Linked DNA regions of Homo sapiens. The protein of the gene in region 1 interacts with the protein of each later gene in a pairwise test. Each region holds a gene or a part of one and is shown in the gene's direction. Other genes may lie near its edges.

Region 1 (7,720 bases):
CATGTAGCCACAGTTTGTTCATTCTCATTACTGTTATTATTCCACTGCACAAACGCAACAGGATTTGTATTATAGTCAGACATTTGGGTTGTTTCATTTTCCTCTTTGCTACTGGAGCCTGGGATTTCTCTTTACTTTCTTTGAGTTCTGCTGTGTATTGAATAGGATTAAAGCAGCATTTCCTGGTCAGCAATTCTAGATGTTCTGTGTCAGGCAAAGTTTTAGATGTTACTGGCTGCCAAAGCTCCAGACACATAAATCATATGTGTTTTGTTTTTTTTTTTTTCGAGACTGAATTTCACATTTGTTGCCCAGGCTGGAGTGCAGTGACGTGTTCTCGGCTCACTGCAACCTCCACCTCCTGGGTTCAAGCAATTGTCCTGCCTCAGCCTCCCGAGTAGCTGGGATTACAGGCATGTGCCACCATGCCCAGCTAATTTTGTATTTTTAGTAGAGATGGGGTTTCACCATGTTGGTCAGGCTGGTCTCAAACTCCTGACCTCAGGTGATCCGCCTGCTTCAGCCTCCCAAATTGCTGGGATTACAGGCATGAGCCACTGCCCCCAGCCTGATATTCTTACTTCTCAAATGATTTACTTTAGCTGATGACTTATTTCTTTAGACTGTCATCTGTATTAATGGCTTTGGTTCCTGTGAAGCAATAATGAGTGAATAAAAACAGGAGCATAGGGATGAGATATGTAATTAATCTTGTAGTCATGATCTCTTGACAAGTTGAGATGTTGCATGTGCAAGGCTAGTTTAATGTTAAAAAGTGTAAAATATTGAAAAAACATGTTGTAGAAATAGAGTGGCTGGGCCGGGCATGGTGGCTCATGCCTGTAATCCCCCTACTTTGGGAGGCTGAGGTGGGTGGATCACCTGAGGTCAGGAGTTTCAGACAAGCCTGGCCAACATGGTGAAACCTGGTCTCTACTGAAAATACAAAAAACTAGCTGGGTGTGGTGGCTGGTGCCTGTAGTCCCAGCTACTCGGGAGGCTGAGGCAGGAGAATCGCTTGAACCCAGGAGGTGGAGGTTGCAGTGAGCAGAGATTGTGCCATTGCACTCCAGCCTGGGTGATAGAGCGAAATTTGGTCTTCAAAAAGAAAAAAGAAAAAAAAAAAAAAGAAATAGAGTGGCTAAAGACAGCAATAGTATAAAGTGTGGATATGGTTGTTTGGGCCCAGGATCTCTTGTCTAATTGACACTGAGAAGATAAAATGAGAAGGAAATTCTGTTGGTGACTCAGTGGTATCTAATCAGTGTGTAACCACTCCAAAATGGGGCTGTCTTTTGTTTTACTAGTTCAGTGGTTCCAAACTGGAGGTAATTTTGCTGCCCAGGGGATATTTGGCAATGTCTGAAGACATTTTTTGGCTGGCATACTACTGGAATCTACTAGGTAAAGGCTAGGGAGGCTGCTAAACATCCTACAATGCACAGGACAGCTCCCTACAACAAAAAATTACCCAGTCTCAAATGTCAGTGTTCAGAAATGCCTTGCTAGACCTAGACAAAGCTTCTAAATTAAAGGTGTAATTAGATAAAGAAACTATCAACTACTTTTCAAGAAATGATAGCCCTAGGCTGGGCACAGTGGCTCTCGCCGGTCATCCCAACACTTTGGGAATCCAAGGCAGGAGGATCACTTGAGGCCAGGAGTTCAAAGCCAGGAATTCAAGACGAGACTGGTCAACATAGAGAGACCTAGCCTCTTAAAAAAAAAAAAGAAGGAGGAGAAATGATAGGGCTACATGGACACATTCTTCTATATTTCTATCCAACTTCTGACACTGTGACATCCCGCTCATACTTGGCTCACCCTAATTTTTTTCAAAACTGTAATGGTGGGTCCTGCAACAACTAAATCCATTTAGAATTTGAATAAAATTACTCAGATCTGACATTAATGTAACTGGATATGTACAGCAATTTGTTTATATATATTAAAAATTAACAAAATTGCTCTATGATTTATGCCATTATTATTTTATTTTATTGTTGTAAACACTAAAGTTCCAAGGCCATAGAGTAAGTGATTTGCAAAAATGGCACTAGACAAATAAAAATCTTGATGTTGCGCCTTGCAGTTAGACTACAAGGTATTCTTTTCCTTTGTTCATGTGTTTTTGCAGCTTAAATTGAGGGCAAAGCTAAATTTCATTATTTCTCCAAAGGAGGTGATTACCTAAATCTGTCCCTTCTTCCTCCAGGCAGCACATACTACCATTTGTTCTTGTGATTCATTTCCCCTAGAAAGCTGAGAAGGAATTTTATAATGATATTATTGGTTTTGTAACTGGTGTTTCCATTGTAATGCTATTACGGAACCAGTGTTGTGATAAATGATCTGTTTATAAGGGAAATCACTTTTACAAGAAGTAGAAAATTAGACACGCTTCTGCTTTGCAATAACAATAAAAACCGCGGTGAAAAAATATTCTCCAGTTTATTCCCATCTGTATCAGCAGGGAAGCTTTAGAAGATGGCTTTCTCCCTAAAGTCTTCTAACCACGATTACTACCTACAAGTCCCATGTCAAAATGCAAATTTCCTCCAAATTCCACTGAAGGCCACTACATTCTTAAGCTTAACCATGACTTGGGCCCTTTAAGAAAACCAGGCGCTTCAAACTCCACCCCTCTGCTGACTTGAAGCAGTGTGAGTCCGCCTTTCCAAGGCGGTTAGTTTTGTGGTGACGCTAAGAGAGAGTTAATTTGCCCCCTGCTCTGCCTGGAAGGAATGTTCCTGTTGCAATAAGCTCTAAAAGTGGAAGCTTTAAGATAATATGGAATAGGGAGCAATAGAAACTTGTGAGGTATGGCAGCCAGACCTACTCTTAAGATTCGATCACAGTGCTGAATAAAGGGGAAAGAATGTTGTTAAATCTGTTTCCCCCTGTGGTGCTTCTCCCTGCTAGCTTTACTCTTCCATTTCAACCCTCAAGTGAGCTTTCCAGAATCCGTTTCCAATTTAACTCATTGTCTCATGTACTAGATCCCAAAAAAGTGAGAGAACTAAGTTTCAGTGCAAATTAAACTGGATCACTTGTAACAGAATGATTTAGATTGCCTATATGTTTCTCAAGAGCAAAGCCAAGCATTTCCTCCCTCCTGCTATACAAACAGTGACAGAGTTCAGAAGCCCTCCAGCACTAAGCTAAAAAATACCTGGGAGAAACTGGGGTTTAGTTGCTGTTGGCATTTAAGCTGTTTGCTAAAAGCAGCCATCTTGGTGAAAGATGATGTCATTTGGAACACTTGGTGTTTTCGAGTTTATTCTGAGGTGCCAGTTTCCAAGAGCCATTGAATCACCGTTTAATCATGAGATCAAATTTAGGTTTAAAGATAATGAGGGAGTGGGAATAAGAATCATTCTTCTTTCTTCCTAACACTTTAGAAATCTTTCAGAAAGTTCAACCCAACAGAAAAAAAAATTACACTTTTTTTTCTATTTTCTATTACCATGTGTTTGTTGTAATGTTAACTAAGCGTGGGTAATAAAACTAGTCTGGTCAGTTTCACTTTCCAATTTTTATACATAAGTGAAAGCTGTTTTGTGTCAACAGGGCAAAGTGTTTAGAATCATCTCACCTGCTGGGCCAATTTCCTGCAAGCCTTTCTTTGGGAAGAGGAAGGGGGAATAAAAGTTTTTGATTTTTAATTTCTTAAACTGCAAAGCTAGAACCATGAATTAGACCGCATTACAGTAATTACTGTTTTATTTTTACATGCTAAAGTTTTCTAGGAGTGAGCAAGAGGATAGCAAAGACGGGTGATGTTGCACTCCCACTCAATCATTACTATTTGTATAGCATAATGTTATGTCCGCAGTTACTTTGGAAAATTGGCACTTAAAGAGGTGTTTCAATCTTCTACTAAAAGTGTTTCGCCTTCCTTTTTTTTTTTCTTCATTAGGTAAATGTTACTGTCTTAATCCTACTACGAGACATGTGCTGGAAATGTTTGCAAAATGCAAAGAGAAAAAGAAAAAAACAGTTGCACCTTGTTTAAACAATTGAGCGCAGTGTGGTTTATGAGGTTATTAAAGGAGATGTGTGTCTCTCCTGCAAATTCTTACTTAACAAGGTTAACCTGTGGCTGCTGTTGTTTCATCCTCCTCGGCCTCTTGTAGAGGAACTTTGTTCTCTTAGGTTTATCCAAGCCTTCCTAGTCAAAAACACCTTGCTTTTGAGAATATAAAACTGCGTGTATGTGTGAAACAGATAGAGGGAGACACGCGCACACACAGTCGGCGGAAGATGGGGCCACAACACGGTAGAGGATGGGTGCCGGAGCCCGGCTGACCTTTCCACGTGTCCCCGGCACCTGCGAGGCTGGTGGGGCATCAGGTTTCCTTTTTCTCGGGGCGGGCGCGAGCCCGGAAGAGGCTGGGCGGCCGTGGGCTTAGATCAGGGGGCTCGGAGGCCCTCCCTTGGAACACGTGTGGCTGGCGAGCTGGTGGTGCGGGGGCAGTCCTTGGCTTTCCCGCACCCGCAGTGCCTGCGCGTTCCCAGCCCGCCCGTGGTCACCAGACGGCGGCGGGCGGGTCCCGGAGCTTTCAGCCAGCTTTGCTGGGCGGCCTAGGGAGCGCGCCCAGCCCGGCTGGAGCGAGCCCCAGTGCAATACTGCCCAAGCCCGGGCGGGGTCTCTGTTCTCTGGCAGAGGAGGTCCCTTGGCAGCGGGAAGCGCCCTCTCTTTCTCTCGCCGCCGCTCCGAGTCTGCGCCCTGGTGCCAGGCGCTCAGCTCGGCGCTCCCCTGTGCTCGCCCGGCGCCCACTCATTCGCAGCCCGGCCTTCGTCGCCGCCGCCTCCCTGCTGCTCCTCCTCCTTTCCCCAGCCCGCCGCGGCCATGGCGGACAGCGCCAGCGAGAGCGACACGGACGGGGCGGGGGGCAACAGCAGCAGCTCGGCCGCCATGCAGTCGTCCTGCTCGTCGACCTCGGGCGGCGGCGGTGGCGGCGGGGGAGGCGGCGGCGGTGGGAAGTCGGGGGGCATTGTCATCTCGCCGTTCCGCCTGGAGGAGCTCACCAACCGCCTGGCCTCGCTGCAGCAAGAGAACAAGGTGCTGAAGATAGAGCTGGAGACCTACAAACTGAAGTGCAAGGCACTGCAGGAGGAGAACCGCGACCTGCGCAAAGCCAGCGTGACCATCGTGAGTGCCCCCCGGGGACGCGCCGCAGCGCCGACCTCCGCCCGCCCCGGGAGGGGCTGCACCCGAATCCAGCCACCCCCCAAGTCTTCCCCAGATTCCCGGGGACCCTCTGAGAGCACACTCCCTGCGGGGACCTGCTGGCTTCCGGGAGGAGAGGGAGGTATCCCTTCGGGGCCACGCGGGTCTGTCCTCCTCGGGGGTCTGAGGACCCTTGCGCGGTGCGGGGGAAGGCTACTGTGGCAACCATTCATGGTCCCTTTTAGCCTCTGGAGAGGAGGCCCCTCCGGGGCTGGGCTGGAGGCTGGCGGCGTGGCTGGGGGGCGGGGTAGGACTTTTTTCAGCCCTAGCATGTTTGAGGGGTGCGTCCAGAATCTGGGGAACCCCAGTCCTGGAAGAGGGAGGAAGCTGGGATCTCTTACTGGGTCCTGGCTCGGAGTGTGGGGGTTCGCAGCTGGACTGGGCACTAAGCTGGCATCTGGACTGCGCTAGCTGGATCGCCCGGGGAGGGGGCGGGAGAGAGTGGCCGGGAATCCGGGAAGTGGAGTTTTCTGGCCGGGATCGAGAGGGAAGGGCGGGTACGGCGCTAATGCTCCCACCTCTGTTGGAAGCTCTTTGCTTTGGGTTGGGAGGGTGGACGGTTTACAGCGAGGAGAGTGCAGCATCCACGCCTGGACAGGGCTGGGGCCGAAACCAGGGGAAGGGTAGTGACTGTGACTCCCTGGCTGAGCCAGAGGTACGTGTGTTTGCTTCATTCGTGGAGTGGTTAGAAGTATCTTGCTTCTGAGTCTAGATACTGGAGAACAGGCCATCTGTTCTGTTTCTACCTGTCCCCTGGAGGCTGCCCAGAAACGGGTAAGCTTGGGTCTGTAGGTCTCTCTCCTGGTGTGGCAGGCGTTTAGAAAGGCCCCTATAGCAGTGATGAGGCGAAACGTAACTAGAAAAAGTACACTGTGTACTCTCACCTATCATCCCTGCCAGCTCACCACATCATTAACATGAAGGATCCCCACACAGACAACTGTATTCAAATCAAAAGTTCCCCAGCCAGAAGCAGAGAAGATGATGTCAAGAAATCAAGGGGGATAAATGGCCATAGCTGCTGCAAAATAGCGGATTAGGCTGAACTTTGAAATGAAGAAAAAGGGATGAATTTGGGGATAGAGGGTCACACCTTGGAAATGGAGCAAGTTTAGGATGCCCCTTGTGCCAGGAAATGCCTTCGGTGGAGGAGGCTGTGTATATGTGTGCGCACGCGTGTGTACACCCCCAGTGCTGGCTCATACATGAGAACTAGATGGCATTCTTAATTTGTGTAGAAAGCAAGTTGCAAGTTAAGTGTGATCAGTAGCCTAAATAGCAGTTGATTGTAAAAAGAAACTTTTCATGCTCAAATCCAATTTTGGAGAATGGAATTGGAGCAACTTTCATGTGAGATGGTAAAGTTCTTGAAGTGCCCTTTTGGTAGGAAGGTGGGGGGCGGGGAATTTGCAGAGGCAGCCACTTCCAAGCCTCCTATGCAGCTTTCTTCGCTGACAGAGATGTCTTTGCTGAGTGGGGGTTAAGAAGAGAGGGAAGTTGTTGGAGGCAGTTTAAGGTTTGAGTTAGTAAATGAGAGGGTTAGTCTCTTGGAGACTGTGAGCCATGGAAAGTAGTAAGACTTGCATGAAGCAAAATAGCCTTTTGCATGCAGTGGGCAATTCAGGCTGGTTTTGTTTGGGAGGGAGGAATGAGGGATGCAGAGACTATGAAAGGGTTATCTGTTTGACACTTAGACCGTATTATAACTAGGTTTGTAAATTGTGCTTAAACATGTTGGCTTTGCAGGAACAAATGTGTTCATTCCCGGTGTTTAAGATCAGAGGCCTTCTGAGTACTTGGCTAGAAGAGCGTATAAGGTGGTGGCTTGCTTTCTTAGCACTTACCCTTAACTACACTGACATCCAACCGAATATACTTTGTGAAATGTCGTGTGGTGTTAATGAGTAAAGTTAACATTGTTTTAGATGACACTGCACAAGTACCAGAAGCCTCTCAGTTCTTCTTTAATTTCTGACTAATATATTCAGGGAGACACATAAAAAAGTGCTTGTGGTTCGCCTGGTTTCCTAATACTTGGCAGTTGTTACTAAGGAGCTGAATGATAAATGCAGAAAACAGATTCCTTCAAGATTTTGCAGGTTTTGTTAACTGACCTAGGATCCAGATTCTGTGGTGGTACGTTTGACCTCTCAGGTATGTAATGCGGGAGGAGAAATTTATGTGACTCCATGAAATGGGCCTGTGAATGTAGAGTCCATTGAACAACACTTAAGTAGTTTATGTCAAGGTTAAGCTGTACAATCCCTGACATCGCTGACTTAAGCATTACCCTTGCTAGTGGCAGGCTAGGAAGTTTCTGATAATTAAGTGAAGGCCTTGTTAGATTTTTCACTATTTTAGTTAATTTGAAGGGAAGATGGTACCATAATTCTGGTAATTGCCTTCCTGGCTCTTTTTAGTTCTAATTATGATATTAACGTTCATGTCCTTGGGCACTAAAGGTGATTGTGGCCTTCTTTTTCCTTG
Region 2 (5,530 bases), on another chromosome or scaffold:
ACATCTCACCGAGAGTCTGTGGGACTTGAGCTAAGTGCTGGCCAAGCAGATGGCACCTGTGTGTCTTCCTCAGGCTGTGAACTGGAGTTCTGTGACTTTAGTGTGACATGTAGACCTTTCTCCACCCGATGTAAAGGCAAGCCTCACCTGACTGTGTCAGCTTGAGCAGCTTTGAATGACCTAGTCTCTGTTCCCAGAGAAGGTGAACAGAAAAATCAGCGCTAGTGATGGAAGAACAGTCTCCCGAGTCTCCCTGTGGGTGAAGCAAGAGACGGAGTTTCTCTTGGCCTCAGCCCGAGAAGCAGCAGGTGAGAGGGAATCGGCGCTAAGAAACTAGGAGAGGCTGCACAGTGAAGAGAAGGCAGCAGAGATAAAGGTCTAGATCACAGTTTCCCTTCTTACCCCAAATAAAATATTGTGTCCAGATATTTTGCCTAAGGATTGAGTGAGAGAAGATACCCTCTTCACAGAAAGGAATCTAAGGATAGAGGGACAGCTCTGCATCCCTCATTTGGGTTCGCTCAGTGGCTGGTGCGAACCAGAACTACACCCTGCATAGAAAAGCAGAATTCCACACACAGCCACCCTGCACAGAGTCCTCTCTGCCGAGCCTGCGGGCAGAGCTCAGAGGCAACCACGAAGGTTCAAGGCAGAGACCCTTGCTGCGGCAGGAATGTGCTGTGGGAGGAAGCCCTGCAGGTGCTGAGACCAGGGTTGCTGGAGCTCCTGTTCAGAAAGGCCTCACATTGGCACCTGATGTTCTTTTCTTAACATTTTAAGATCGTATTAAAACTCTGAGTAGGAAAACAGAATCCAGAAGTATTGTACTTGGGGTGTAGGCTGAATTGCTGTAATAAAGAGAATAACATAGTGGTTTAAACAAGATGGTGTCTCTTGTGTGGCAGGCGGTCCAGCCCATCATCCTCCACACCACTTTTTTCCATGTAGGGTCCAATGTGGCTGCTCTGTCTTGCCACTCTTAGCAGGACTAAGTTAGCAGGGAAGGGATCAAGGCATGCCCAGTCGCCAAGGGCAGGGTGCATGCGTGGCACTCGGTGCTTGCGCTTACACCTATGCCCCCTTCGCAGAGCCTAGTCCATGCCACACCCACGCAGGGGAGGCTGGCACCTGCCACAGAGTGGAGGCCACGGCAGCAGGGCCGCTGCTATTCCTCAGGACCTAAACTTTGCCGAGTACATCCAGATGATTTAGAATTGATAGTAATTTTCTGTAGTTTGATTGAGTAGGACATTTCAGAATTACCGTAATACTATTCACAAAAGACAAAGGATATTCACCTTTGAAACAAATCTAGTTTTTTATCTGATCTCTAACTCCCCTTTCTAATTGCTGCTAAAATTACTTTTATTTTCTCCTTGTTTAAGGGCTGTTGAGAAGCCAGTTCAAAGTTATAAGTTGTCTATTTTAAACACTAGGATACTGAATTATTAAAATAACGGTTTCTGTTGGCACATGGATGTGTTTCTCTCTAGTAACCAGGAGCAGGGTTTCCAGCCTCACATTCTCAGGAGTCACGTGGCTCACTGTGCACTGTGCATTCCTGCTGTGTTTGTCTTCTGTTTCACAACCCATTGACTTAAACAAAACCAGATTCCTCTGTAGGATGCCCTTGCTAACCGCGCTCTGCTCCTGAGAAATCGTCCTCTGACTTCCTTAAGTGATAACTGCCCTTTCTGTCATTCCCCAAGATAAAGAACAATCATTTGAATCAAGCAATTCATGAGGAGCGCGAGGCCATCATCGAGCTGCGCGTGCAGCTGCGGCTGCTCCAGATGCAGCGAGCCAAGGCCGAGCAGCAGGCGCAGGAGGACGAGGAGCCTGAGTGGCGCGGGGGTGCCGTCCAGCCGCCCAGAGACGGCGTCCTTGAGCCAAAAGCAGCTAAAGAGCAGCCAAAGGCAGGCAAGGAGCCGGCAAAGCCATCGCCCAGCAGGGATAGGAAGGAGACGTCCATCTGAGCAGCCTGCGTGGCCGTCTGGAGTCCGTGAGACTGAAAGGACCCGTGCATCTTACTGTAACCCGGGGGCCAGGCCGGCTCTCTCGCTGTACATTCTGTAAAGGTGTCTTCTCTTCTCAGACTCTTCCTCTGTCACACGTCTGACTCCTTCACGTCAGGCTCAGGTTCCATGGGAGGACGAAGCAGTGGACGCATTGTGGGCTTTAGGGACAGATGAGTTTTCCAGATAGTGTCAGCTTATTTGAAGATTAATTTTCTTTGTTAACTTAAAATAACTATTTTAACCCTTGAGTGGCTTCTTTTTAAACCAAAAACCGTCTTTCTTTGCTTTTTTATCACAGCAGAATCAGGATCTCTTTCTCATTCAAGGGGGGAACCACCCCAGGTCAGCGCTGCGCCTGCTGTGGCCGCCGCGAGCCACGCCCTCTGGGATCTCTGGTACCGTCACTCTTGCTTGTGCCTTCCACACCTTCTCGGTGCAGATCCCTATGGGGGAGCTGCCTCACGTTCTCTGACTGGTCAGAGCAGCGCCTGGTGGGTGTTCCCTGGCCCACTCTCCTCTCTCCTTCTGCAGTTCTAAACCACAGTCTATAAGCCCGAGTCACCAGGACGGCCTGTCTGGCCACAGACAGGGGCTGCCTGTGGAGCCTGCCCACCGGCCCCCGGCAGTGCAGTCCAGCGGGGAGGAGGCTGCCCGTTCCTGCCAGTTCCTCACTGCGGGGACCAGCAAAGGCCTTCTCACTGGGTTGGTCAAAGGTAGTCACCTTGGCCTGGTGCATCCACAGAGGATGTTGTTCAAACCAGAAATCTTTTAAACGACTGACCTTCCTTAAAAACAGAATGACTCCGATTGCTTGCTTGGGCTAGAATGTACACGTCTCCTTGCCTGAATAAGCCATATATATGCTCTTAAACAAAAGTTTGAAATTATCCATATCATCTCAGTGAACCTACTGGTGGACTCCCAATTGACAAGATTGAGCAATAGAAAAAAATTCCTTTCCTTTGAATGATAGCTGTGATTCACCCCACCCCATTTTCTTGTTTCTGGTCCATCCGATGAGACGGATGCTCTGATGCTCTGAGGCTTCTGGGAGGCTGGGCCCTGGAGGCAACGTGCTGCAGGCGCACTCTGTCAGAGTGAACAGCACCGCGAGACAGGCCAGGCTCGTGGCTCGGAAGACAAACCCCACACACACTCAAGGGGTCGAAAACAAACCCCACACGAGGGCTCTCACCTCCTTCTCCTAGGTAGTATTTATTTTCAGCACCTGTTTGATGCAGTTTTTAATCCTCTACCTATTGCACTGTTGTGACTCGTTGGCCATTATTTGATTTTTGTACGAAAAAAAGCTTTGTTATAGAAATCAGCATACTATTTTTTTAAATCTGGAGAGAAGATATTCTGGTGACTGAAAGTATGGTCGGGTGTCAGATATAAATGTGCAAATGCCTTCTTGCTGTCCTGTCGGTCTCAGTACGTTCACTTTATAGCTGCTGGCAATATCGAAGGTTCCTTTTTTGTTTGTGTAAACTCTAATTTCTATCAAGGTGTCATGGATTTTTAAAATTAGTATTTCATTACAAATGTCTCAGCATTGGTTAACTAATTTTTGCCAGGACCATTATTGATCAAGCAAATAAATTCAACAGCCATTTGGGAAAAAGAAAAGCTTCTAGTTTTTTTGTACACATTCTTTCTGTGAGGAGATTGAGTACTCTGCAGCTGGCGAGGAGTTGGTTGAGGCACTTCTTCAAGGCCAAGGGGGAACACAGTGTTTTGTTTCCAGCTCACTTTGTACCCCTCACCTCTGCAGACACGGGGAGAACCCCGGACCCCTGGCATGCATGCTGGCGGCGGCATGCCTCCCTTCCACAAGCCCATGCTGCTGCAGAGGGAGCCTGTGTTTGCAAAACCCAGTGGACTGGGCTGGGTCTGCTGTCTGAGCAGCTCCTGGCTCCGGTGGGAACTGCACACAAGTCCACTGGCCTGGCTTGGCCCCAGGCATTGCAATTGACAGACATTTGCATTTCATACGGTAAATGAGGACTCAGCACAGCCAACCATAATCAGCATGTCTGGGATAGACTGGTCTAGAATAAAAATGAAGTTTCCATTGCTTTGTTTGCTTTAAAAATTCCACAATTAAAATATCTGTCATTGAAAGCTTAGACAAACAGCTGACTTCTCTGTTTTGTGTAGTTAAATCTATAATGTTAAATTTATATAGCTAAATTCTCCTTGATGGAAAGTCTCAAACGCCCTGATGGGGTACATTTAGCATTGGGGATCTGGAGATACTGAGGTGTGAGACCTGAGGTCACCTCCCAAGATGGGCTCTAGTGCTGTGTGATCTTTTTTTTTTTTCACTGCAGCTGTTTCTGTGAAGAGCACATTGCTTGTTATGTATTAGGATATCTTAAGAACAAACACACCTTCTGCGTCCAGCCAGGCTGAGCAAGATGCAGCCTGGGCTTTCTGGAGCTCTCGATGGGGACCCGTGCCCAATTCCATGTGTTCAGCCTCAGCCCTGGCCCATGGTTCTCATGAGGGATAGAAGGAAAAGCCGGAGTCAATTAGCAGGCAGAGGCTTCAGCATAAGATCCCACAGCTTTTAGGGAAGGTGGGCAGTGCCCCCTGGAATGTTCTAGACTAGATCCCAGGAGACCCAGGAGACGTGATAGCAAGCCTGGGCAGAGGAGGGGGCAGAAAGCCCTTAAATGCCACATGTAGGGGCTCTTTTGCAGAGCAGGAAGAGTACTGCTGCCCGTCACATGCCGGGTCCTCCGAACCTGCAAAGTGATGGATGCTCATTCTCTGCATTCTGGTGACTTTGCTGTTACTAGACAAGCATGATTCAACAGGTGTTCAGTTCAGCCCCAGCAGATCTCGGACATCCGACCTCTGCTCCCACCGCCTAGCTCAAGTGTCAAGTGCTGTGACCGGACATCGTGCTGAGCTGTTCCCGGGTCTCGTGCTAGAAACTGGCTTCTAGACAAACAGTGCGGGTACTGGAAGGAACGTGGACTTTAGGCAGGAAAGGCTTTTTTTATTTGTTTGTTTTTGGAGACAGAGTCTCACTCTGTTGCCCAGGTTGGAGTGCAGTGGTGTGATCTCAGCTCACTGCAACCTCTGCCTCCCAGTTCAAGCAATTCTCCTGCCTCAGCCTCCCAAGTAGCTGGGACTACAGGTGCACACCACTACCATGCCTGGCTAATTTTTTGTATTTTAGTAGAGACGGGGTTTTACCGTATTGCTCAGGCTGGTCTTGAACTCCTGAGCTCAGGCAATCCACCCACCTCGGCCTCCCAAAGTGCTGGGATTATAGGCTTGAGCCACCGCACCCAGTGTAGGCAGGAAAGTCTGGGTTTTCTTCATAACCTTCAAAAGCAGTCTTGTTGAACTTCAGTTTTTTCATTGGCAAAATGGTGGAGATAATCTTGATTTCCAAAGGCTGCTTAGATAAATAATGGCTAGTAAGTACCTGGCATAGGGCTTTTGGCGTCATACTCCAATTCATTTTCCCTACAGGACATGATCCGTGACTTAGTCAT
Region 3 (8,428 bases), on another chromosome or scaffold:
AAATACCTTTCAGGAAGGCAGCTCTGAAGGGCATTTGTCTACTCAAAAATCCTAGGTAGACATTTACATTAGTTCAGGGGCTTTTGGTAACCTAAACCAGAAATCTTGAACTCAAATGCCCACTGTGGCCATGCAGGAAACGTGAGCCAAGTGAGTGGAGTATCTGTATATAACACATGAGATTGTCTTTGTTCCCACAAAAAGATATACTTGGTCTTTCTTTTCCTGAAACACATGTCATCTCAGCCTCTTTTGTTTTCCTGCTTTTAATAAGATGTAGAAAACAGTTGTGAAAGCACAATGATAAGTAGCATCTGACCCTCGGCCTGTGCTGGGGAGGCTGTCAGGGAGTGGCAGGGACTGTGGTGAATTAGAGAGCACATGTTCTTTCAATGGCGGGGTCACAGTTCGATGGCTACGTAGAAATGCTGATCTGATTTCCCAAAAGAAAGCAAAAATCAGGATTCTTATGGCAAATCTCCCCATTTTTGACAGGCAAATAATTCCAAGCTTTTAAAAAGCACCGTGTGAGTCATTCTCTCATACCACTGGTGGGTGTCTAAATCAGTATAATCTCTAAGGATAGAAATTTGACATTAGCTACTAAAATTGTAAGAACAATACTCTTTAACTTGACACTCCCACTTCTGGTATTCTTCCTGCATATACACTTGCTGTGTGCAAAATGATGTGTTCAAGAAAATTTATTGCAGCATTGTTTGCAATAGTGAAAAAACTGAACTCATCTAAATGTCTATCTAGGGGGTCTTGGTTAAATAGGTTATATTCGTAAAGGAATATCATGCAGCTGTAAAAATGAGTGCTTTTTTTTTAGATATGACAATAGCACAAGTGACAAAAGACAAAACAGATAACTGGACTTCATCAAAATTAAAAACTTTTGTGGAACAGAGGATGTTATCAAGAAAGTGAAAAGACGATCTGAGAAATGGAAGTAAATATCTGTAAATCATGGGAAGTAAATATCTGTAAATCATCTAATAAGGTAATATCTGTATCTGTAAATCATCTGATAAGGGACTTTTGTTTAGAATATATAAAGAACTCTGACAGCTCAACAATAAAAAGGCAAATAATCCAATTAAAAATGGACAGAGGGCTGATGCGGTGGCTCATGCCTGTAATCCCAGCACTTTGGGAGGCTGACGTAGGCCGATCACTTGAGCTCAGGAGTTCAAGACTAGCCTGGCCAACACAGTGAGACCCTGTCTCTGCTAAAAATACAAAAATTAGCTGAGTGCAATGATGTGTGCCTGTAGTCCTAGCTACTTGAGAGGCTGAGGCAGGAGAATCACTTGAGCTTGGGAGGCGGAGGCTGCAGTGAGCTGAGATCCTACCACCGCACTCTAGCCTGGGCTGGAGTGAAACCCTGTCTCAAAAAGAAAAAAAAAAAAGGTCAAAGGATTTGAATAGATATTGAACAGACATTTCCCCAAAGGAGACAAATGGCCAATAAACCGTGAAAACATCCTTAGTCATTAGGGAAATGCAAATCAAAACTACAATGACGTATCACTTCACACCCACTAGGATGGCTATAATTAAAAAATAATAATAATAATAAGGCTGGGTACTGTGGCTCATGCCTGTAATCCCAGCACTTTGGGAGGCTGAGGCAGGTGGATCACTTGAGGTCAGGAGTTCGAAACCAGCCTGACCATCTCTAATAAAAATATAAAAATTAGCTGGACATGGTGGTGGGGACCTGTAATCCCAACTACTCGGGAAGCTGAGGGAGAAGAATTGCTTGAACCTGGGGTGCAGATGTTGCAGTGAGCCGAGATCGTGCCAGTGCACTCCAGCCTGGGCGATAGAGTGAGACTCAGTATCAGAAAAAGAAAAGAGGTGTTGGTGAGGATGTGGAGAAATCGGAACTCTTAAATATTGCTGGTGAATTTGTAAAATGGTGCAACTGCTGGAGAAAACAGCTTGGCACTTTCTCAAGAAGTTAATAGTTTACCATGTGACCCAGCAATCCCACTCCCAAGAGAAAGGAAAACATGTCCACAAAAAAACTTGTAAACAAATGTTCTCAGAAGCATTATCATAATAGCCAAAAAGTTGAAACAACCCAAATGTTCATAAACTGATGGATAAACAAAATATGGTATATCTAAACAATGCAATATATTTGGCCATAAAAATTAGTGCTAATATGACAACATGAACTTTATGCTAAGTGAAATAAGCCAAACACAAAAGACTACACAGTGTGTGATTCCATTAGTATAGAGCATCCACAATACGCAAGTCCATAGAGACAGAAAGTAGTTCAGTGGTTGCAAGGGCTCTGGTGAAAGAGGAATGAGGAGTGACCGTTAATGGGTATAAACCAAAAATAAAATTAGAAGGCCCTTTGCAACCATCTGAATGGACTCCCTCCTTGGCCAGCACACCCTAAAATTTAACCTGAAAGACTGGTTCAGGCCACGATGGGAGGTGAGAGTTGGACATGCCTTATTATACCCCTCCAACATTAACATCAACACTGACCTTAAGTCTGATAAGAAATATTTGTCTATTCTCTCTATAGCCTGCTACTGGGAGGCTTCAACTGCATAATAAAACCTAGGTCTCCTGGCCAGGTGCAGTGGCTCACGCCTGTAATCCCAGCACTTTGGGAGGCCGGGAGCAGGGGGGCGTGGATGACTTGAGGTCAGGAGTTCGAGACCAGCCAGGCCAACAGGGTGAAACCCCATCTCTACTAAAATACAAAAAAAAAAAAAAAAAAAAAAAAAAAGCCGGGCTTGATGGCTCATGCCTGTGATCCCAGCTATTCGGGAGGCTGAGGCAGGAGACCAGGAGGGGGAGGTTGCAGTGAGCCGAGATCGCACCACTGCACTCCAGCCTGGGCAACAGAGTGAGACTCACTCTTCAAATAAAATAAAATAAAATAAAATAAAATAAAATAAAATAAAATAAAATAAACAACCAAAAAACCCTAGGTCTCCACAACCCCTTATCATAACCCAGATATTCCTTTCTATAGATAATAACTCTTGTAACCAACTGCCAATCAGGATATGTTTAAATCTACCTGTGACTTGGAAGCCCCTCCCCTTTGAGTTGTCCCGCCCTTCCAGAATAGACATTGAACAGACATTTCCCCAAAGGAGACAAATGGCCAATAAGCACATCAAATCAATGTCAATCTTGCATGTATTGACTTATGTATTATGTCTTCCTGAAATGTATAAAGGCTGACTATGCCCCGACCATCTTGGGCACATGTTGTAGGACCTCCTGAGGCTGTCACCACCATGTCCTTAACATTGGCAAAATAAACTTTCTAAATTGACTTGAGACTTGTCTCAGATACTTGGTTCACATAGGTTTCTTTTAGGGGCGATGAAAATGTTCCATAAACCACTCTACCTAAAATTAGGTAGTGATGATGGCTGCTCAACTGTGAATATACCAAAAAACACTGAATTGTACACTATAAAAGGATGAGTTTTATGGTATGTTATTAAAAGTTGTTTAAAAGTGAGGGACCCCTCCAGTTATTGATATGGAATGATCTTCAGGAAAAGAGCATAATATGCTACATTTTTGTACACCAAAGGGGAGGTAGGTACGAATATGCATACATATTGCTTTTTTCTAGAAGCCGCCTAGGAGTGAAACCAAAATTCTTCACTTCTTTTCGGCCCTACCTCGAGCTCCCTTTAGAAAACCTTTCCTTCCAGCTCACAGTATCCACCATGTCCACCTTCGCCTCCCGGCACTGAGCCTTAGAGGGGCGGTGCTCCATAAACATTTGCTACATGAATGAACGAATAAACTATCGGATTTTGGGGTGGGTCGGGACAGCTCGGTTCCAGCGAGGGCTCCGCCCACCCGCGGGCTCCGCAGAGGAGCAGAGGTTGGGCGGCCGCCTCGGTTAACTCCGCTGCAGCCCAAAGCACGGGAATCGCGGGACAGACAAACGAGCGGAGGGAAGATACCTAGAAGCCAGGAAACCGCGAGCTGCAGTCCAACTTGGCCGGAAGCTGCGGAGAGGCTCAGCCACCGGAAGTCAGTGGAGGGTTCGGCCGGACGCTCTAGAATCCCGGAGGACCGGGATCTCTGTGGTTGGCCGTGACGGGCACCCTCTACCGGGGATGACACATTCCCAGAGCTCCTGGGACCAAGCAAATGGCGGACACAATTCCCTGGGCGGAAGGGGACTTCGGGAGCCAGTAGCCAAGGTAACAGTCCCAGACCTGGGCATCTCAGGCCGGGCAGTTCCCCGAGCTCACGGGACTAGCTGTGATTGGCCGGATGAGGTTGAGAGCTTCATGGGGACGCGCGCGCTACGTGCAGGGGCGTTGCCTTCCATTCACTTGGCGCCCGACTGCCAGTGCGCATGCGTTTGAAGGCGGTGCAGGGCGGGGAGCACACCCCTGCGAAGTGCCGGGCACCCTTTGGGCGGCTCCCGCCGGCGAGCTGGACAGCGGCGCGCGCCAGGCGTGGCTTTCTCGGCCGGTGGGCTAGGATTGGACGCAGTAGGTAGAAGGGGCAGGACCCTCCGCAGCAGTAGCTCAGCGATTGGCCAGGAGCTGGAGGGAGCGTGGCCTTGGGAGGCGGGGCGGAGGGGGACGGACAGGGCAGCTCAAGACGCTGAGGTGGTGGCTGCGGCCTTTGAACAAGTAAGTGAGCCACCCTCGGAGACCCCCGCGCTGGGGACGGGAGGCCGGCGAGCCTCGGGACCTCTGAAAGCCTTGAGGAGGCGCGGGGGTGAGTGCGGCCCTGAGGAAACCCAGGTGCCCCGCCCCTCCCTTTCTTCCTGGCCCGCGCCTCGCCTACCCCTCCCCCGACCCTGGCGGGCCCCCGGCTCTGGGCCCGGACCCCTGGGGTAGCTAGTCTGCCACGAACCAGCCGCGCGCTTCTGCCCTTGTCGGTTTAGGAAACTGGGAAGTTCCCTGGTCCTGCTCCCCAGCCCGCAGAGGGGACACTGAGGCCCACGGTAGGTGGTCCTCTCCTCACCCGAGTCTCCACACAGACACCATGGCCGAGCCTCTGAAGGAGGAAGACGGCGAGGACGGCTCTGCGGAGCCCCCCGGGCCCGTGAAGGCCGAACCCGCCCACACCGCTGCCTCTGTAGCGGCCAAGAACCTGGCCCTGCTTAAAGCCCGCTCCTTCGATGTGACCTTTGACGTGGGCGACGAGTACGAGATCATCGAGACCATAGGCAACGGGGCCTATGGAGTGGTGTCCTCCGCCCGCCGCCGCCTCACCGGTGAGCTTCCTGAGCCGTCGCCTCCCAGATGTGGCAGCGTCGCAGGGAGTGGGAAACCGGCCTGTCCCAGACAGCCGGGAAGGAAAGCGGGGTGCGAGTTCTGGCTCCAGTCAACACACACTGACCAGGGCCTTCTGCCTGCCAGGCTCCGGGGAGGCTCGGTTCTCTGAAACTCCGGCCTGGTGGTTTTGCCATCCTGCCTGCCTACTTCCTCCTTAGGAAAATGATAGTCCCAGTTAGACCAGAATGGAGAGCCAGTCCTTCGTGTCTAAGAGAGAAATGTGTTCTGGAGCCAGACACTGGCATAAGGAACTGGTGGTGGGATGGGTGAGGTCTGAGATGGAGAGGGTGTAGGCATAAGAGGCTGAGCTACACCACTGGGCATCCGTGCAACCTCCAACAAGTTACTAAGCCATATTTCCTTCTCTTTAACGTTGACCTATTGGGACCTGCCCCGCAGGGGAGTTGTGAAGGTAACATTTAATAATGTAGGTAACATGCTTAGCACAGGGCTTGGCACATAGTAGGTACCCAATACTTGGTAGCTGTTGTCATTTGCATCCTAGAAGGGAGGTGTTGATAGGGGCTGAGTCGACTCTGCAGTTTCTCCAAGGTATCCTCTGGTATGTCCCTTTTCCCTGCTCCTCAGGCCAGCAGGTGGCCATCAAGAAGATCCCTAATGCTTTCGATGTGGTGACCAATGCCAAGCGGACCCTCAGGGAGCTGAAGATCCTCAAGCACTTTAAACACGACAACATCATCGCCATCAAGGACATCCTGAGGCCCACCGTGCCCTATGGCGAATTCAAATCTGTGTAAGAAGCGGGATGGGAGAGGGAGCCAGACTTGGGACTTTTCTGAAGGCTGCAACCATGTTGCCGAAGTTCTGGAAAGGCAGCTGAATCTAATCTGAAGCAGGCTGGGAAAATTCCCGCAGTTCTAGGACCAGTTCTTTAGAGTTTTGCCAGGGACAACTGTTATTCCTCAAGAAGTGTACAGATGATTTTACAGTTTTATAGAATCTTAGTATATAGGATGTCAAATGTAGGACATTCCTACTATGACCACACCCTCCTATTCCCATAGCAGACTTCACTAATCAATCACAGAACACTTTCCTACAGACAGTGGACAAGCCTGGTCAATTTTCATCATAGTTCTTCAAGCTGCCACTACCAAACAATGGAGATAGCCCCAAAAGGAAACCTATTGGCCAGCCCTGGTGTAGTCCAACCCCATCTTTTATCTGATGGGGAAACTAGGTCTGGAGACAAAAGTGATTTAACCAAGTTCATGGAAAAGTCGTAGAGAATCTAAAACGTGATGCTCTTCTTCCATACCATGCCGTCAGCCCCTATGGGGTCCCAGGGTAAGGCTGTTACCTGTCTGGAATCGGAAGGGTGTGGTGAGGATGGGGCTTGTCCCTGGAGTGTGATCAGGCCAACCCATGCTTCTCTCCTTCCTTCCCCTTCCAGCTACGTGGTCCTGGACCTGATGGAAAGCGACCTGCACCAGATCATCCACTCCTCACAGCCCCTCACACTGGAACACGTGCGCTACTTCCTGTACCAACTGCTGCGGGGCCTGAAGTACATGCACTCGGCTCAGGTCATCCACCGTGACCTGAAGCCCTCCAACCTATTGGTGAATGAGAACTGTGAGCTCAAGATTGGTGACTTTGGTATGGCTCGTGGCCTGTGCACCTCGCCCGCTGAACATCAGTACTTCATGACTGAGTATGTGGCCACGCGCTGGTACCGTGCGCCCGAGCTCATGCTCTCTTTGCATGAGTATACACAGGCTATTGACCTCTGGTCTGTGGGCTGCATCTTTGGTGAGATGCTGGCCCGGCGCCAGCTCTTCCCAGGCAAAAACTATGTACACCAGCTACAGCTCATCATGATGGTGCTGGGTACCCCATCACCAGCCGTGATTCAGGCTGTGGGGGCTGAGAGGGTGCGGGCCTATATCCAGAGCTTGCCACCACGCCAGCCTGTGCCCTGGGAGACAGTGTACCCAGGTGCCGACCGCCAGGCCCTATCACTGCTGGGTCGCATGCTGCGTTTTGAGCCCAGCGCTCGCATCTCAGCAGCTGCTGCCCTTCGCCACCCTTTCCTGGCCAAGTACCATGATCCTGATGATGAGCCTGACTGTGCCCCGCCCTTTGACTTTGCCTTTGACCGCGAAGCCCTCACTCGGGAGCGCATTAAGGAGGCCATTGTGGCTGAAATTGAGGACTTCCATGCAAGGCGTGAGGGCATCCGCCAACAGATCCGCTTCCAGCCTTCTCTACAGCCTGTGGCTAGTGAGCCTGGCTGTCCAGATGTTGAAATGCCCAGTCCCTGGGCTCCCAGTGGGGACTGTGCCATGGAGTCTCCACCACCAGCCCCGCCACCATGCCCCGGCCCTGCACCTGACACCATTGATCTGACCCTGCAGCCACCTCCACCAGTCAGTGAGCCTGCCCCACCAAAGAAAGATGGTGCCATCTCAGACAATACTAAGGCTGCCCTTAAAGCTGCCCTGCTCAAGTCTTTGAGGAGCCGGCTCAGAGGTGCCTTGTGGGCAGGTCGGGTGGGCAGAGGGGAGACTTGGACTTGGACAAGGCTTCAGGCTTTTACCTTCTCCCCTGCCCAACTTCCCCGCAGATGGCCCCAGCGCACCCCTGGAGGCTCCTGAGCCTCGGAAGCCGGTGACAGCCCAGGAGCGCCAGCGGGAGCGGGAGGAGAAGCGGCGGAGGCGGCAAGAACGAGCCAAGGAGCGGGAGAAACGGCGGCAGGAGCGGGAGCGAAAGGAACGGGGGGCTGGGGCCTCTGGGGGCCCCTCCACTGACCCCTTGGCTGGACTAGTGCTCAGTGACAATGACAGAAGCCTGTTGGAACGCTGGACTCGAATGGCCCGGCCCGCAGCCCCAGCCCTCACCTCTGTGCCGGCCCCTGCCCCAGCGCCAACGCCAACCCCAACCCCAGTCCAACCTACCAGTCCTCCTCCTGGCCCTGTAGCCCAGCCCACTGGCCCGCAACCACAATCTGCGGGCTCTACCTCTGGCCCTGTACCCCAGCCTGCCTGCCCACCCCCTGGCCCTGCACCCCACCCCACTGGCCCTCCTGGGCCCATCCCTGTCCCCGCGCCACCCCAGATTGCCACCTCCACCAGCCTCCTGGCTGCCCAGTCACTTGTGCCACC
Region 4 (7,644 bases), on another chromosome or scaffold:
GCTAATCCCCAAGACAATGAAAACTTCATAGCTACAGTTCGAGAAGTTGTGAACAGACTCGATCGTTAGGGAATGGTGAGTGCTCACTGATAAATATTTATATGCCAGCACATCATCAAAAATAAGATGTCATCAGACTTTATCAATACTACTAAAACCCTGGGATTACATTGGATGAACAAGTTGGAGACTTGGTTAAGATTCCTGTTGCATGGTTGTTAAATGTAGTAAATAATATTAGAAAAGAGAATCACTGTAGTCCCAGCTACTTGGGAGGCTGAGGTGGGAGGATTGCTTGAGCCCAGCAGTTCAAGTCCAGAGAGATCCTGTCTCTAAAAATAAAAGAAAACAGACTCAAGACAGTTTTTTCTTATGCTTGCTTCAGAATGGTTTAATGGGAAAAGCATGGTTTTTGTGGCTTGACCTCATTTCTAGCTTTGTCACTTATTAGCTGTATTCTTGGGCATTAGTTTCCCAAAAGGTTTTGAAAAGTGAGTGGGAAACTTAGAAGAAATCATCCCCAAAACAGCACTCAGAACAAAATAAATATAACTTAATTTTTAATCTTCCTTTTCTCTGGAAAATACTAATGATAATTTAGAAGTAGTCAGTGAGACATTGTATGTATGTGAGCCTACATAAGTAGGAAGCTTTTATATTCACCACTCAATAACACAGTGACTGTTGTCTGTTAAATGTTGATGTGGACTCACCATACAAACAGGTAACTCCCTGGTTTTGATAGATTAAAAAATAAACTCTTCAGCCAGGTGCAATGGCTCACACCTGTAAGCCTAGCAGTTTGGGAGGTCAAGGCAGGCAGATCGCTGGAGTCCAGGTTCAAGACCAGTCTGGGCAACATGACAAAACCCCGTATCTACAAAAAATACAAAAAATTAGCCAGGCATGGTGGTATGCGCTTGTGGTCCCAGCTGCTTGGGAGGCTAAAGTGGGAGGATCACTTGGGCTTAGAAGGTCAAGGCGAGGCTGCAGTGAGCCATTATCAGACCACTGCATGCCAGCCTGGGTGACAGAGCAAGACACTGTCTCAAAAATTTTTTTAAATAAAAAATAAATAAACTCTTGGTGGGGCACAGTGGCTCACACCTGTAGTCCTAGCACTTTGGGAGGTTGAGGCAGTATTGCCTGAGCCCAGGAGTTCAAGACCAGCTTGGGCAAAATAGTGAGACCCCTGCTTTAAAAAAAAATGAAAAAAATTAGCTGAGCATGATGGCGCACACCTATAGTCCTAGCTACTCAGGAGGCTGAGGCAGGAGGATCACTTAATCCCAGGAGTTCAGGTTTCAGTAAGCTAGGGTCACACTAGTGTATTCTAGCCAGGGTAACAGAGCAAGATTCTGTCTCAAAAAAAAAAAAAACAAAATAAAAATATAAAATTCTCAATAAGCAAAAAAGAGAGAGAAAATAAGTTTTTAAAAAATATGTTCAACAAATGAGCAGTAGTATGTATCCTTTTTTTTTTTTTTTTCCAGAAGAGATCTACCCATGACACTTTTTGGTACTAATGGTCATTTCTCAAATGGAATTGGTATTTATTCATTCAAATTCCTAGAGATAGGATACCCCTTTACTATGCCATCCCACAAAACTGGCATCCCTTTGCTCTATTGGTTAAGTTATTCCATACCTGCAGACATATAAACTGTGTGGAAATTTTAAGATTAGACTCTACAATGAGGTGGCCATATATGGATACTAAAATAAGAGTCAACAGCAGGATATGTTCCTTAGAATGGTCATGGGTTTGAATCTTTATTTGTCCTGTGAGTACATGAGCACACTCATATACATAATTTATATTCTGGTTTGGTTTGGACTTTGAGCAACATATATAAAGATAAATGCCTAGTAAAGACAAAGGCAGAAGTCTTTATACTTCTTGGTGATGCCCTTGGATGGTAACTGTACAAGGCAATGCATTATATTTTAGCCTCAGCCATGCTCTGATGGGGAAAGGATTACTATCCTTCTAGGGAGTAGCCAGATGGAATGGACTGTACTTCTTAGAGATGGCTGGACTCCCTGCAGAATAAAGAAGTGGCATTACTGCTGCTGCTTATGAAGGGAACAGCTTGTAAATCTAGGCCTGGGATATTCAGGAGCTCATCATCCTTCCCATTTTCGTACAGTGTTTTCAATTAGCACTCTTGTAGGCTTGAAAAGTGAGAGCTGGGAGAAACAGTGTGGAAGATTGTGAAAGAAAACATTAATTGATAACATCGTGTCTCTTCACATAGATACAGGGCAGCTAATTAAGTATTGACCCAAAAGTGGTTTTCCATTTTGAGCATTTTGCCAGTAAGACTCTCCTAAAGCTTTTTTCATCTCAAGAGTATAAACTATATTATTTGTTTTCTGATGAGTCTTTGAAAACTTAGAATATTACTATTATCCTTGATTTTAACCTACAAATATTTTGCCCCTGAAAAAATAGCTAAAAGTGTGAACTGTTATATTACTACAGATTCTTACAGTCTAGCCATGCAAACATAACTAACAATAGATGGTTCCCCACACCCCCAAAACTGTCAAAGGAAACAATTACAAAGACTGTGATTAATACTGGTTTGGCCTCATTATACAAATATGTACAGACAGCGAGGCTGATGTCCCCAGCACTCATGATGCAATTAATTACTCTGACAAGAGTTTGGCAAAGTTTTCATCCACTGTCAGGAGCCAGTGAGTGAAGGGAAGCTAATGGTCTACAAGTTTCAGAGGAGCATATTAGGGACCTTTAGAAATCTAACATTTTATATATGAAGAAACTGAATCCCAGAGAGGAGAAACATCTTGCTTGAAAATATCTGCGTAGATGAGTACAGAATCCAAGACTAGAACCACAGATATCTAAACTCTCTCATTCACTGGGTTTCTAAAACATTGCTCTAAGGAAGAGGTGGATGGGGGAAGGGGAAAGCACTAAAAAATCCTGAAATAGAGCATTAAGATACATAGGAAGTAAACAGATAAAAATTGTAATCCAGGAATTATAATGTTATAGAATTTTAGCTCATTTTAAAATTATTTTGATAAATATACAGTGGAAGAATTACCCTACCTGTCTGTCACCTTTCTTGTAGCTGAGTAGTACCTAGAGACAAGTGGAGCTAGGAGGAGGCCATGAGGGTGATTTTAAGTTGAAAGGTGACTACCTTATATAAACTATTAAAATGCATATGTTGCCTGATTTCAATGATAATATTTGGCTGTTTGAGTTTAGGGAAAAAAAATCTTATGTGACTGTATTTTTATTAATATGAGAAATGTTCTTGATTATATGCACATAATACATCTCTATACATGCAGATATCCTTAGTTAACACTTGAAGAAAATTGGTTTTGATTGACCATACATTCTTCAGACTAAAGTAGGGTACTCATTTTCCCTCCTCAGGTTTGTCCCTGATAGTTGCTTTTCTGTGTTTAGCTGATGATTTTCCTACCTCCCATTGTTGCTGAACTGGAACAGGGCCATGTTTCTCATTGAAATGTTATGTAAAACATCTCAATGAGGTTGCCTGCTTACAGCTTTATGAGTTCTTCAGTTTACATACACCCTGCACTCACTTTAACGCTTATGAAACCAAAGCATTTTTAAAATCCATAGCGCTAACCCCTTCCATTCAATACTTACTTTCTTGGTGTTATTTTCCTTGTTTGTTTTTGTTTTTGTTTTGTTTTGTTTTCCTGATTCTACAGGTCTTAGAACTCCAAGATGTTCCATAAGTGTTTTTACTTGTGAGGAATGAGAAGCCATCCATGGAAATTTGAACTGAGTGGGGGCAGAGAAAGAGTGCAGATCCCTTTGCTTGTGAAAGAATTATCAGTGAGTGAAAGGCCATCACCCCAGGAAGCCAAATGAGGGAGCAGCAACATGTATATGAGCTTCCTATGGAATTGTCCTTATGTGAAGCTTTGAAGGTGTACAGCCACTCTCCCGGGTCTTCAGGTTCCTACCATTTCCATTTCTGTTAAAGTGGATCTGCATATCTTCAGCTTACTAGGTGACCCGGATGCTGACATCTGCTGCTGCAGAAAGGAAGACTTTTCATTGTAATTTCGCTTAGACCCTTTTATCAGTGGAGCTCCAGTTTTCTTACCTAGCTGTCACTTTTTTAAATGCCTCTGGGGGTTATTTTTGCTTTCCTTGGCCCCCACCAATTTATACATCTCCATTTTCTGACCTCTGGACTAACTGGTTGCTCAGCAAGGTTCTGAAGGAGAGTTTCTTGCATTGGACAGGCCCAGTCTTCTCCCATCATTGCCCTGCTGTGACTCCAAAGAAAGGAGCTTCTTGCTGACAGTGCCCTGTGGAGCAAGGCTGTGTTTCCTACCCCACACGGTGCTCAGTGGGTGCCAGCCCTCAGTGTGGCTTTGTGATTGCTGCCCTAAAGGAGAATGCTCTTTCCTTCCTCACTGGTACTGCCTGCTGTTTTCTAAGCATTGCTCCTGCACAGACATGGAGTCCCAGCCCCAGCAAGGCTCTTCTGTTCCCATCTGTTGACAATGTCTTGTGGAGCATTTTTGCTGAGGAAAAGGTCACTTGTAAACAGAGGAGAAAGGGAAAGAGTACAAAGCCCTAAGTTTATTGTAAGTGAAAACTGAGGGAATTCCTGTCTTCTTTAGGAGTAATGATTCATAGATCTAGATAGGTGGAAATATCATTCAAAATAGTCACTTGAGCTCACAAAAAAAGCAAGGAAGAATTCTCATGTCCTTTGTCTTCCTTCTGTAGCCATTAACTGCTGAATCCATGTGAGGAAGACAGGCTTCCCTTCCTTCCCCCTCCTTAGTGATTTTTTCTTTAACAGCATAAGTAAAGAGGACTTTCTGGTTCATTTTTGTTTGTTTTGTTTTGTTTTGTTTTGTTTACAGATGAGGTCTTCCTGTGTTGCCCAGGCTGGAGTGCGGTGGCTATTCACAGATGCTATCATAGCACACTACAGCCTACAACTCTTGGGCTCAAGCATCACGCCTAGCAGTTTCTGGTTCCTTTAACAGCAAAAGGAAAGAGAGGTTCTGATTCTTACCTCAGGGTTTTTTGGTTGTTCATTGTTTTTGTTTTTGTTTTTGTTTTGACACTGCAGAGCACAAGGCTAAAGGTTACAGCTGAGATCTTTGGAACCAAAGGCAGAGCAAGCAGAGCCCGTTGTCTGGGCCCCACACCACTGCAGGCAGGTGGATAGAAGTGCGGCCCCTCTCATAGTATGCCCATAAGTCAGGGCATAGGGCAGAACTACCTGTCATGTTGCTACACCATCCTGTCTTCTCAGCATCTCCTTGCCTGTTTTCTTTATTAGTCCAAAGGAAAACAACAGCAACAAAATCTGTTTTTAAAATGTCTTATATGAACATATATCAAATATCCATGCGCTGAAACCCACATACCATCACTTGGCAATTTTTTAGAATAAGACCCCATTATTATCTATTGCTATAAACCTAGCCAGTTCTCTTGCTCTTCTGTATTTTCCTATTTCCCTGCCATCATCTGCTATTTCTGCCACTTCTCTTAGACTCCTTGTCTGCAAAGCCCAAGCTAGAACTCACTGTCTATGGCAGAAGGACATCCAGAGCCCATTCTGGAGTTTTGTTTTTTCCTTCTGCCAGATGCTTTGTGTCCTGTCTTCCTTCCTCCTCATATTTCTGTTTCTCATTTGTGTTCAGTTTTGTGCAGCATTGCTAGCACTGCTTTTGTGACCAGAAAAGGCCATAACATGGTCCAGGATCATCATTCTTCTGACTCTAGATGGGACACTTGACAGTGACTTGAAACATTTGCATATTCAGGAATGCATGAGATTTCAAGAGAGCCTACAGTATGAAATCATTTTCACAAAATAAGCAGCTTGCTTCTGAAATGCTGTCTTTCCCAGTAGCTACTCACCTGCCTCTGGTGGCTGGGATTCAGATGCCACAAAACTGTCAGTATCTATAGACCAGGTCTGTGCCACCTCCTCTCTCCTCTGTGCTCAGTGAGGAGGCAGTAAATGAAGTTACAGGCTAGCACAATACCTAACTCATGTTTCCCAGTACACCTGTAGATATTACTGTACTTTTATGTTCTCAAGAAATAAGTTGTTGCCTATTCAGTGTTACAGATTTCTTTGTTTCTTTTTAATTAAAATACAAGAAGCAGCTGAGGAAAGGGAGACAAGGTATTTTATTTCTGACTGATTTTAGAAAAAACTTGTGTACATGTGTTTGGAACTGTTGAAATGCCAAGTTTTCTGTATAAGTGTTTTTGTAATTAAACTTTCAGATTTTCTTTGTTTTTTAAGAAGTTGATGTGCTTGTTTGACATTTGTCTCATTAAAACTTTTCTACGTTGAATTCACCTGTTTCAATTTTACTTGCTTTGTAACAAAAAGTCCTACCTCTGGCCGGGCACGGTGGCTCATGCCTGTAATCCCAACACTTTGGAAGGCCAAGGCAGGCAGATCACGAGGTCAAGAAATCGAGACCATCCTGGCCAACCTGGTGAAACCCCGTCTCTACTAAAAATACAAAAATTAGCCGGGCATGGTGGCATGAGCCTGTAGTCCCAGCTACTCAGGAGGCTTAGGCAGGAGAATCACTTGAACTTGGGAGGTGGAGGTTGCAGTGAGCCGAGATCGTGCCACTGCACTCCAGCCTGGCAACAGAGCGAGACTCCGTCTCAAAAAAATAAAAAATAAATAAAAAAGTTCTATTTCTGTTTTTTCCTCTTAAAGACTTTGTCAACTCTACATTAATCATGACATCTGTTATGCTTTTAAAACAGTAACACATTCATTTTACTAATTGCTACTTCAAAATGTATCTTTACCGGTTTGAGAAGTCAGCTCTTTTAATGTATGCTGTAACAATACAGTGAATTCTAATTCATTTTAATATAGCAGTAGTATTCTGAAGACAACTTACAAGGATGTTTTTAAAGTCAGTGACTCTGATGTCCCCTTGATAGAAGATCATTTGATAGAAGAAAGGAGATGTGCTTAAATGCTTGCTTTTTTTTTTTTTTTTTTGAGATGGAGTTTTGCTCTTGTTGCCCAGCCTGGAGTGCAGTGGCACGATCTCCGCTCACTGCAAACTCCGCCTTCCAGTTTCAAGCGATTCTCCTGCCTCAGCCTCCCGAGTAGCTGGGATTACAGGTGCACGCCACCATGCCCAGCTAATTTTTGTATTTTTAGTAGAGACAGGGTTTCACCATGTTGGCCAGGCTGGTCTTGAACTCCTGACCTTGTGATCCACCAGCCTCGGCCTCCCAAAGTGCTGGGATTACAGGCATGAGCCACCACGCCCAGCCAAATGCTTGCTTTTTGAAAATAACTAATCAAAATATTTTTAAAGGAAATTTGTCACCTATTTCTACTATGCTTTTAAAAATCCTAGGGGTGAGGCAACCTGGTTTCCAGAGCCTGCTGCTCTCCAAGTAGCCATTTGTGTGGCATTGGGCAAGTCTTGATTTGTTTCAACTCCAGTTTCCTCTTCTGACATAACACGTGCCTCAGCAATCCTGTACTATTGTAAGAAGGATAGAGTAAGGTAACAGAATCCACCTTGCCTTGGAGGACAGGAAGATAGGAAGTATCTGTTACATGATTGCCAGTAACTATCAGGGTATCTCAGTTAGGATTG

What was found.
Region 2: the proteins of CCDC6 (region 1) and RALBP1 interact in binary tests that used the Homo sapiens proteins (3 or more experiments, as listed by UniProt).
Region 3: the proteins of CCDC6 (region 1) and MAPK7 interact in binary tests that used the Homo sapiens proteins (3 or more experiments, as listed by UniProt).
Region 4: the proteins of CCDC6 (region 1) and HMG20A interact in binary tests that used the Homo sapiens proteins (3 or more experiments, as listed by UniProt).

What each region holds. Positions count from the first base shown.
Region 1 is NC_000010.11:59,903,557-59,911,276, reverse strand, and holds the start of CCDC6 (coiled-coil domain-containing protein 6), read left to right. Parts: upstream 1-4,720; 5' UTR 4,721-4,852; coding exon 4,853-5,155; intron 5,156-7,720.
Region 2 is NC_000018.10:9,533,962-9,539,491, forward strand, and holds the end of RALBP1 (ralA-binding protein 1), read left to right. Parts: intron 1-1,709; coding exon 1,710-1,976; 3' UTR 1,977-4,153; downstream 4,154-5,530. UniProt on the Homo sapiens protein: Multifunctional protein that functions as a downstream effector of RALA and RALB. As a GTPase-activating protein/GAP can inactivate CDC42 and RAC1 by stimulating their GTPase activity.
Region 3 is NC_000017.11:19,373,891-19,382,318, forward strand, and holds the start of MAPK7 (mitogen-activated protein kinase 7), read left to right. Parts: upstream 1-4,607; 5' UTR 4,608-4,740; exon of another isoform or gene 4,741-5,005; 5' UTR 5,006-5,010; coding exon 5,011-5,242; intron 5,243-5,891; coding exon 5,892-6,057; intron 6,058-6,593; coding exon of another isoform or gene 6,594-6,611; intron 6,612-6,717; coding exon 6,718-7,796; intron 7,797-7,890; coding exon 7,891-8,428. UniProt on the Homo sapiens protein: Plays a role in various cellular processes such as proliferation, differentiation and cell survival. The upstream activator of MAPK7 is the MAPK kinase MAP2K5.
Region 4 is NC_000015.10:77,479,247-77,486,890, forward strand, and holds the end of HMG20A (high mobility group protein 20A), read left to right. Parts: coding exon 1-69; 3' UTR 70-75; exon of another isoform or gene 76-3,723; 3' UTR 3,724-6,357; downstream 6,358-7,644. UniProt on the Homo sapiens protein: Plays a role in neuronal differentiation as chromatin-associated protein. Acts as inhibitor of HMG20B. Overcomes the repressive effects of the neuronal silencer REST and induces the activation of neuronal-specific genes.